Linked DNA regions of Homo sapiens: region 1 is linked to region 2. A link means that fine-mapping ties the variant in region 2 to the plasma level of a protein whose gene starts in the linked region. Region 2 holds a variant in brackets. A gene starts in the other region. All regions are shown on their reverse strands. Region 1 holds the start of LGALS3BP (galectin 3 binding protein). Region 2 overlaps MSR1 (macrophage scavenger receptor 1).

What was found. PIP is the chance, under the fine-mapping model, that this variant and not a neighbour inherited with it causes the effect. The UK Biobank Pharma Proteomics Project read protein levels with antibody pairs (Olink). The fine-mapping took linkage between variants from a reference panel, not from the people measured, so its PIPs are less certain.
Region 1: it holds the start of LGALS3BP, and the variant in region 2 is fine-mapped to the plasma level of the LGALS3BP protein (UK Biobank, PIP above 0.99).

What each region holds. Positions count from the first base shown.
Region 1 is chr17:78,977,065-78,982,442 of GRCh38, reverse strand. It overlaps LGALS3BP (galectin 3 binding protein), which reads left to right and starts at 2,520. Exons shown (of 6, transcript NM_005567.4): 1 at 2,520-2,619; 2 at 5,229-5,303. The coding sequence starts at 5,252. RefSeq lists an enhancer at 1,494-2,486.
Region 2 is chr8:16,183,421-16,188,798 of GRCh38, reverse strand. The region is part of intron 1 of MSR1 (macrophage scavenger receptor 1); the gene reads left to right. Among named protein-coding and RNA genes, the nearest start is that of MSR1, 6.5 kb to the left of the region's middle. The variant A/G (reference allele first, on the strand shown) is at 2,901.

The DNA of each region.
Region 1 (5,378 bases), not on the chromosome of region 2:
CTTGGACCTGAGAGGCAGAGATTGCAGTGAGCCGAGATTGTTCCACTGCACTCCAGCCTGGGCAATGGAGGGAGACTGTGTCTTAAAAAAGAAGACAAAATAGAGGGAATTCTAGGAAAGGCAACCAGCAGTGGCAGAAGCTGAGAGGTGGTTGCTGGGAAGGGGCTGGGGGGAGGGGTGGCTGCAGAGGGGCATAAGAGAATTCTTAGGGGTGATTGAAACGCCCTAGGTAATGATTGTTGTCATGATACCATCGCTACACATTTGCCAAAACTTTGCACGTAAATTATATGCCAAGAAAGCCAATTTTTAAAAAGAAGGAAAGGATGGGTTTGAAACCCCAGTTCTTCCCCTACCAGCTGCACAACTTTAGCCGATTACGTCGCCTCACTGAGCCTCTGTTTTCTCATCTGTAACAGGGAATATAAGAGCAGCTGCTTCCCATCATGGCTGGAAGTATTAAATGCATTCATTTGTGGCAAGGCTTATAGTAATGCCTGGCGAAATCCATATTAGCTATTATAGGGAGCGTTCCTCAATTTGCGGAGAGGTTTGGGGTAGAGGCACAAAAGATGACCTTACAGGCCAGTTAACCATTCTCATCTCTGAAATGCCCCGCACTTTCCCTACCATGTCTTGGGAGCGGCTTCCTGATGACAGCAGTTCTGTCCACACGAATCTGAGGCTTTCACCCAGCTGTCTTCTCAGAGCCGAGCCGCTGCCCCTTCCCCTGCCTGTCCCCTGTCAGCGCTTCCCTCCACCCCATGGTCATCGCACACCGGAAAGGCCTTGCGAGCCCCAGGGGAGCAGATGTTGGTGCTCCGATTCCACGAGGAGGCCTCTGGGTTTTCCATTTTACCTGCCTGGATGGCTTAGGACTTTCCCGGACTCTGGGGCTAAAGATTCGGCACCTGAGTTTTAAAACCTTTCCCAGCACTTCCCAGAGATGCCCTCCCGTCCTCTGCACTCCTGTCCTTCCCTGGCCACTTGGGCAGAAGTCATTAGCACTGCTGAGAAGGGATGATGCTGGGGTTTCTGTGCACTCAGGCCCTTAATCCAGATGAGATTTTTTTAAACTCCCCACAGCCAGTTCTATTTCCAGCTGCACCTGCCCCTGGATCTTCACAGTTCCTCTGGAGGGGATTAGGCAAACCGTGCAGCTGCCTAAAACCTCACACCTTGAAGGAAATAGTCATTGAATGTCTGACCTCTGGGCTGGCTGTCTCGGACTCTAAGCTGCCAGGGAACCAGGGCCTTCCACCCAGTGGGACTGCCTGGGGGCTTTTAAATGCCCCTGCCTGTCCCCTACTCCCAGAGATGGTGACTTCCTGGGTCTAGGCATTAGGAGTTTGTAAAACTCCCTGATGATTCTTCTGTCCAGCCCAGGCTGAGAACCACTGGTCAGAGGCCTGGGCACATCCCAAGGCTCATCCAGAACCATGGGGTGCAAGTGACAGAAACAAGAGCGGCTGCTGATTGCCTCACTGAGCGGTGAAGCCCAGCCTTGACCATGGATTAGGCCAGCTGGACCCAGGAGCTCAGGCCGGAGGATGCCTGCTTCCCTCTGCTCTGCCCCACCGGCCCCAGCAGCCTGGGCCCACATCCTCTCAGTCAGAAGCTGGCTCTCACCGGCTGGCTGGGCTCACAGCCCCACCCTGAAACCAGCAGTGTGGCCCGGGGCCCCCGCAGGGCTCAGACAGCCAGGCCTTGGGTGGTTGAAGGCCAAGAGCTGGGGGCCCTCTGGGAACCACACAGCCGGGAATGGGAGGGGGTGCTCCCCAAGGGACAGTTGAGGTGCCGGCTTTCAGTGGGAGGAAAGGGAATGGGTATGAGCTGGACAGAGCCATTATGTCACCCAGAGAGGCTCTGTCCCCCGCCCCGCTGAGGGGGAGACAGTAGGAGAGTGGCCACAGGTCCAGCAGTGGCGAGCACAGGCTCTGGGGTCAGGTGTTGGAGCAGGGTCCAGCTCCTCCACTGGCCAGCTGCATACCTGGTTCTCAGTGCCTCCCTCCCCTGGGGACAGGGGACAGTGCCATGCAACCTTGTGGGGCACAGGCCCTCTGTGTGGTCAGCATGCCAAGAGCACAGAGAGGGTGGATTTGCACATAAGCAGCCCCCTGTGTGGTGTTCACCCAGCCAGCAACGTGCTAGACCCAGGAAAAGACTCGGAGCGCTCTGTCAGAGTCCACAGCCACACCACCAGGTGCAGACTGTCTGGGCCCAGAGCCTCTGCTTCTTCCCCTCCCGTCCACCAAACGCCAGCCCCTGACCAGCCTGGCGGCCTTTCCAACTGAGTGTGGCTGTTAGTCCTCTTGCAGGCCTTGCTCCAGCCAGACTCCCACCTTGGGCCTCTGCCAGCCTGGCACTGATAGCCACAGGCAGAGCTGAGACAAAAGAGAGGGGCCCTGGGGAGTATCAGCAGCAGCCAATCCCGGAAGACATCTATGTCAGGTGGTTTCTGGAAATCGAAAGTAGACTCTTTTCTGAAGCATTTCCTGGGATCAGCCTGACCACGCTCCATACTGGGAGAGGCTTCTGGGTCAAAGGACCAGTCTGCAGAGGGATCCTGTGGCTGGAAGCGAGGAGGCTCCACACGGCCGTTGCAGCTACCGCAGCCAGGTAAGCTCCTGCCTCTAGCTCTCAGGTGGGCACCCCTCTCAGTCTCTCTCTCTTTTTTATTTTTATTTTTTTTGAGACAGGGTCTCACTCTGTCACCCAGGCTGGAGTACAGTGATGCAATGTCCGCTCACTGCAGCCTCTGCCTCCTGGGTTCAAACGATTCTCCTGCCTCGGCCTCCCAAGTAGCTGGGATTACAGGCGCGTGCCACCACGCCCAGCTAATTTTTGTATTTTTAGTAGAGACAGGGTTTCGCCATCTTGGCCAGGCTGGTCTCAAACTCCTGACCTCTGGTGATCCACCCGCCTCGGCCTCCCAAAGTGTAGGGATTACAGGTGTGAGCCACCGCGCCCGGCCAGGGCACCCCTCTCTCTACACAGGCAAGTGGGGGTCATGCCTCCCTGTTTGCACATAGGCCTGGAGCTGGGGATCCAGGGCTCCTGAGTCCAGCAACAATCATTGCTGCTCCCAGGCCCACAGGGCCTCTGTGTACAGTTGGGCAGATTACTCACTGCACAAGGATACCAGCCAAAGGGCAAGTGGGTTAGAATTCAGCTTGGCCCTCTCTCAGACCTGTGCATTTGGCCTAGGCCTGCACCCACTCCAAGGAAGAGCACCTTTTTTTCTGATTTGCACGAAGGGGCCAACACAGGCAGCCGGGTCTCAACTGTATGAAGGAATCAGGCAAAAATAGCCGCTGCCACACAAAGGGCAGCGACGCCACCTGCCAGGTGCTTCGTTGCCCCCCCCCCTTTTTTTTTTGAGACAGAGTCTTGCTCTGTCACCCAGGCTGGAGTGCAGCGGCTCACTACAATCTCTGCCTGCCGGATTCAAGCAATTCTGTTGCCTCAGCCTCCTGAGTAGCTGGGACTACAGGTGCACACCACCATGCCCAGCTTATTATTATTATTATTTTGTATTTTTAGTAGAGCCGGGGTTTCACCATGTTGGCCAGGCTGGTCTTGAACTCCTGACCTCAAGTGATCCACCTGCCCCAGCCTCCCAAAGTTCTGGGATTACAGGCGTGAGCCATCGCGCCTGGCCAGTTGGCCATTTTTCCAAGGCCCTGAGTTACTCTCCCAGGACGGACAAACCTAGTGGCTGCAGCAGAGTGAAGTGGCTGGGGGCAGAAGTGGAGAGGGCGTCCACCCATACCGGCGTGCCTGGGACTGAGGGGTTTCCCAGGACACAGGGAAACTTCAGTGCTAAAACCAGCACAGTCCCCAGCACACAGGACAGGCGGTCACACCCTGGCCCCTTTAGCCATCTACTGACATTGACACAGGGAGGAGAGGTGGGCTCCCCCGAGCAGACCCCCTGCCTGTGGCTCACTGACTGTGGATGTGGAGCCCATTTGCCTCTCTGGGTGTCAGCTCATTCACTTGTAAGGTGAGGTGTAACTAAGGTGGTTCTCAGGGTCACGGTAAGGCCTCCAGTGGTGCCCGGGGAGCCCCGACAAGGGGTGGCTGCACAGTGCCAGCGAGCACGAGTCCCAGAGCAAAGCTGCTCACCAGCCAGTGCACCCAGCTCCCAGGGCGCTTGTTCATGCAGACTCCCATGCAGAGGGGCTAGGGCAAGGCCAGCCATGACTGCATTTCCGACAAGCTCTGGGGATGCCATTGCAGCCGTCCACCAGGCCCCCTCCAAGCAGCCTCAAGGTCACCAGGCCCAGACTCCCAGCCGGTGCCCACAGCAGTGCCACCCAGAGGCCTGCCCCAGGCTTGCTGAACTGAGGGGACAGTGTCAGGTATCACAGGATTCTTACCGAGCCAGAGAAACCATAACTGTCTCTCCATTGGCAGGGTGTGGGGGAGGGAGGCAGACGAAGACAAAAGCGTGGAAATTACACGGAGGCAAGAACACCAGGCCAGAAGGTGGAGACCCGGACCTCCCCAGTCCTGGCCTGAGTGTCAGTGTCTTGGGGATACTTCAGCATTTCCTCCCTGTTCTTCCCCCAGCCTGGCCCACCCTGGGCTGCAGCCCTGACCCTTTTCATCTATCTTCCCCATCGGAACACCACGGAGCCCCGATATATCTCCCTGCCACTTATCTCTGTCACCCCTCGCCCGGATTCTGTGCCCTCTCCTGACGAGTCCCCTCCCATCCACTCTCCAGGCTGCAGCCTCGTCTCTGCCTGCTGAGACCCTCTGGGACAGTCCCTGCAGGGGTCTGTTGCCTGAAGCTTAAGGCCGAGATCTTAACCAGGCTCACCCGGCCTCCCGACCTGGGCCCACGCCTGTGGCCTCCTCCATCTCCCCGCCCATGCCCGTGTGGCAGCCTTGCCCGGGGCCTGGTTTTTTGAGATGAGCTCACTTGCCTCTAGTCACCAATTCTTGCTGCCCTTACTGCCAGGGGGTGCCCCCAGCCCACGCTTCATCTAGCCAAGTGTTACACATCCTTCCAGGACCACACTGCAGACCAGGTGAGGGGCCCCCGCGGGGGCATCCACAGCACACGTCACACTTACTGGGATCATAGTGGGCTCTGCAAGAGAGGGACCCCGCCTGCCACACAGCCCAGGTTGGGCTGAAGGGTGAATGGGCAGGCCAGTCCCTGGGGCCTCGGGCCATCTGGCTCCCGTGCCTCACCCCTCCGCTTCTGTCTGCTGCAGGATCTGGGCATCCAGGCACGGCCATGACCCCTCCGAGGCTCTTCTGGGTGTGGCTGCTGGTTGCAGGAACCCAAGGTGAGCTGAGCCCCTGGGAAATACCAAAAGCAGAAGTGTGGAAGGCTGGTGCACCCTGGGGCTGCTCAGAGCTTC
Region 2 (5,378 bases):
CATTCTCAGCAAACTAACAGAGGAACAGAAAAAGAAACACTGCATGTTCTCACTCATAAGTGACAGTTGAACAGTGAGAGCACGTGGACACAGGGAGGGGAGCATCACACACCGGGGCCTGTCAGTAGGTGGGAGGCAAGGGGAGGCATAGCATTAGGACAAACTCCTAATGCATGTGGGACTTAAAACCTAGATGATGGGCTGATGGGTGCAGCAAACCACCATGGCATATGTATACCAATGTAGCAAACCTGCACGTTCTGCACGTGTATCCCAGAACCTAAAGAATAATAAAAAAAATTTCAAGTTTGAAAAATTCGTTTGAAATATTAAAATAATGAGGTGATTTTAAGGAAAACGCGTAATACCAAATGATACGTGCATGATGATATGAACTATGTTACAGGTATACATACATCCAAAGACTCGAGTTTCATTTAAAAAATTAAGGGTTTTTTTCCTTTATTAGGGTGATGAGATGACAGAAATTTCATCCTAACATATCTATAATATTATTAAAATGTTTTATAATAAAAACAAAAAAGTAAGGTATATGGTTCCCAACAAATTAACCTTGAAATTCTTTCATTATGAATTTCCTGTAAACTTTTCATCCACTTGATAAAATGCTGATATTACAGAAACGTGTTTCACTTCTCATGAGCACGTGCTTTTAATAGATTACACAAACTCCAAGGATTTTACAATCGTTTATCAGCACACTGACATTTAATAGGAAGAGTAACTTTATGTGAAGCTACTTTTTGTCCTAACTGTGGAACTGATATTAAAAGGCACACTTGAACAGTGTGAGTTGTTCACTGCCTGCTAATGAAGGCTCATGCAAGTATGTATGTTCACGTTACTAAAAAATTACAATGATTATAACCAGAGTAAGCAGCTGAAATAATCTGGTAATTTTAATAATAAATGCTTTTGAAGCAAAGTGGGTTCACTGAGGGTAATATTTTTTGTTTCAGTTTGCTAGTTACGTGCAGTGCAGAGAGAAATATTTTATTTTCCAATATGTAACAGAAGAATTTTTAAAATCCCTACTTTAGTGAACCACAAAGTTTTCTTGAGGCATAACCTAAGATATAAAATCCAGTCATCTTGAAAAATATCTTGCCTTTCATTTATTTATGTAATTTTAAATACGGCATTATGTATGTAATGAGCACCTTCAGGAACTCTCTGATCCCTGAACCAAAGAGATCAAAAGTCCACATCATGGATCTGGCTTGGATGAGAGAAGACAGATGATAGACAAGACAAATAAGGAATATATGTTTTTGGGGGAAAGAAAATGAAGCCAGGGTGGGGAAGACAAAGCCCCAAGGGGTTGTAGGTTGAAAATGGATGTTCAGGAACAGTCAGCTTGCTTGCTTGCTTGCTTTTTCTTTCTTTCCTTTTTTTTTTTTTTTTTTTTTTTTTGGAGACAGAGTTTTATTCTTGTTGCCCAGGCTAGAGTGCAGTGGCCTGATCTTGGCTCACTGCTACCTCTGTTTCCCAGGTTCAAGCAATTCTCCTGTCTCAGCCTTCTGAGTAGCTGGGATTAGAGGTACCCGCCACCACACTCAGCTAATTTTTTGTATTTTTAGTAGAGACAGGGTTTCATCATTGGGCCAGGATGGTCTCGAACTCCTGACCTCAGGTGATCCACCCGCCTCAGCCTCCCAAAGTGCAGGAATTACAGGTGGTCTGCTTTTTTGAGTCAGACTTTAATGACGGCCTGAGTGAGACGAGAAGGCATTCAGGGGCTTTGAGCATGGGAGTGACTCAATCTGCCTTACTTTTTAAGAGGATTCTTCTGGGAAGTGTGTGGAGAATTAATTCAAGAATGTAAGCGTGAAAGTCAGGGAGCTATTAAAATCAACAAGGTGAGGCCATGCTCAATAGCTCATGTGTGTAATGCCAAAAATTTGGGAGGCTGAGGTGGGTAGATTGCTTGAGGCTAAAGAGTTTGAGATCAGCCTGGGCAACATAGTAAGACTGCATCTCTAGATGGGCATGGTGGCATGCACCCGTAGACCCAGCTACTCAGGAGGCTGAGGTGGAAGAATCACTTGAACCCAGGAGGTCAAGGTTGCAGTGATGTGATCACACGGCTGCACTCCAGCCTGAGCAAGAGAGCAAGACCTTGTCTCAAAAAAAAAAAAAAGAAATGTCACGGTGAAAGGGATGATGGGGCTTGGACAGGATGCTAGCAAGGAAGTGACAAGAAGCCCTCAGTTTCTACATAGCGTTTGAAAACAAAGCAACAGGGTTGGATGAGAGATTGGATGTAGTGGATGAGAAAAGGCGAGGAAAAGAAGACCTCTAGGTTTGCACCATATTAGAATTCTAAGCAGGGGTGTTGTTAGGCAGTGCATATATGGGTTTGTAGTTGAGAGACGAGCTATGGGCAAGAGATAAAGACTTAAGAGTCATCAGCCTTCTAGATTATATTTAAAGCAATGAGGCTAGTGAGATCACCAAGGGAGTGAAAATAGGAGAGAAAACAGAACAGAAACTGGACCCTGGCTCACTCTGCTGTTGAGACGTTGGGGAGATGAGGAGGAATACCCAGAAATAAATAAAACTCCCCTGGATGTGCTATCTCAGTGCAATCATCAGTATCTCTCTTCTCAACAAAAAACCGTGAGCATGAACAACTTTCATTTATGCACTCAGGGACTTTCATTTTTATACATTTATTACTGCCAATCTTGCAAGGTTTTATTTCTGCTTCTACCACACAGGAAAAACAACTTAAATTCTATGTGGCAGGTTATGGATTTCTTGCAGGCCACGAACTTCTTTGTTCTTTTCCATGACCCTGACTGCTTCTTGTTTTTCTCTTGCAGCGTCAAAAAGTTCTTCCTTGTCTTTTGTGCTGAGTCTTCTTCCTCTACTCACCC[A/G]CTGAATATCATGTTTTTCAAGTTTATGTGTGTGGTGTTTTTTTTTTTTTTTCCTGAAAAAAGGTATCTTCTACTGTTTGACTTTTTCCCTACGATTCTTTGTTAAAATGCTGTGTTTTAGATGCTATTAATTTGTCCTCTCTCTTAATGCCCTTGGATTTTCCTCTTAATTGTCTGCACCATTGCTGTTACCCAAGATGCCTGGCTGGAGTAGATAAAAATAAGCCGAAGTCCAAAAATTGGAATAGAATGGAAGGAATGGATCAAAGGAAATCAGGAGTTTTTGTGCAGTCAGATATGGGTCTTATAGATGAGAGCGGTCTAGAAAAGCAGTTCTGGGCTCAGATTGCGTGACTGTGCTTTGCCGGCATATTCCTAACTATATCACATATTCTCCACTATACAGTAAGTAGATGATAATAATAAGTGGGTATGATAATAAATAGATGATGTAAATGGATGATATAACCACAGTGAAAATCCTGGAAAAAGAAAAGTTAGGTTGCTGTAGAAAATCCACGTTTGTAGCTAGTTGTGTTATGTAAAACAAAAGCTGATGCTGAGATTGAGATCTGGTTTGGCTATATTGGCTTGATCAGGACACAGGCAGTAGTTCAAGCCATGGAAGTAGATGAGATTCTCAGAGAGACTGTGCAGACTAAGAAAAAAGAAAGTAACATCAGAAAATGCCACAAATCCTATGGCTTCATTATCTCTGATGAATGTGAGCTTTTTTTTTTTTCTGGAAAATATACATACCAACATTTCGTGCAGTTCATGATAAACCAATCCCTTTTGAACATTGCCCAGAAAGCAAACAGACTTCCCATGGTGCACAAATGTAGCCATAGGGAATATTGTTCATTCCTCATTGCACTGAGTATGCTTCAGTGTTCACCTCCCTTCTGGCCCACTACACCTGTCAGGGGTATTTTATAGACTAAATAGTGTCAGTTAGTCTAAATCACTCATAGACATGTACTAGGTGGTTTTCCTTTTTCAGAGATTAAATAAATCTTCCCAAGGTAACCACGGTTTAAAATATAGTAATCCACAAAATATTTATTATCACTTCTATATGCTAAAAAAAAATAAATCAAAGGTTAGAAACTTAAAGAAAAAACAAAATCAAGCTTCATCTCTAGTTCAAAGTGAAAGGGAGAAAAGCAAAATGTTTCATAAACAATATATATTGTCTCACTAATAATATTAATCCAGGTCACTACTGCCAAAGCAAACAATAAATTTTTACTTCATTTGTATAGATAGTAATTCAATGTTATATTTTGGGTAGGTTGTGAAAGCCAGATCAATTTATGCGATCAGAAAAATAAAGGAAGAAATTGATGAGTCGGATGCTACCGGCTACATGCCTCTCCAGCCTCTTCTTTTTGAACCTCCTTTGTACCTGTTTAGAGAAAAAGCATAAATAGTGTACTACCAACCTAACTAAGGTTATTATAGTCTGTTTGTTTAAAATACCATTTTTTTCTCCTTTTGTCTTTTTCCCACTCTCGAAGGTACTCAAGAAAATTGAACAGATGTAATAGATCAAATTAAAACATTTTATTTCCTGAAAGCCTTTTTTGCCTGTTGTAATGTGCAGGACCCCTCTCCTTTAATGGGAGAGACAGGAAGTTACCTGAATCTAGGCTGAAAAGGTTATGTGAAAAGAAAGTATAATAATAAAAGGGACACTTGGCTTTTTAAATCTTTGTTTTCTCTTAACCTAAGTAAGGCATATTAAAAATAAATGTTAAGGTGAAAAATAAATGTTGTCTTTATGAAAAATTAAAACTGCTCTCAGTTCCATATTGTTCATACCTTCATGCTTTTTAACATGATATTTTCCATCCTGGAATGACCTTACCCCAGATTCTGCTCATTTTCAAAACCCTGATTCATTGTCATCTTTTCTGTATTCCTACCTTGATTACCCACTTCCCCAAAAGAGTTAATCACTCACTTTTGTACTATGCCTGTGCCATATATATATATATAATTATATATTATATAATAATATAAATATATTTAATATTATATATTGCCAATTCTATGATATATAAAATATATAATATATAATATATTTGCCAACTAATATAATATATAATATATTAACATAATATAAATTACATATAATTATACATATATTTATATTATATATTATATAATTGCCAAATATATATGGTATTACATATAATATAATTGGGAAATATATATTTATAATATATGTTATATTAATATGATAATATATTTATTATATTATATATTATATATATTATATATTTGCCTATTATATAATATATTATGTAATATATTAACATAATATAAATTATATATTATATAATGTATATATAAATATGTATTACATGTTATAGATGTAATTATATAATGAATATTTATATCTATATAGTTATTCATCTATTCATATATGAATATTCAGCATATTCTATTTATTCAGTATATTCAATATTTATT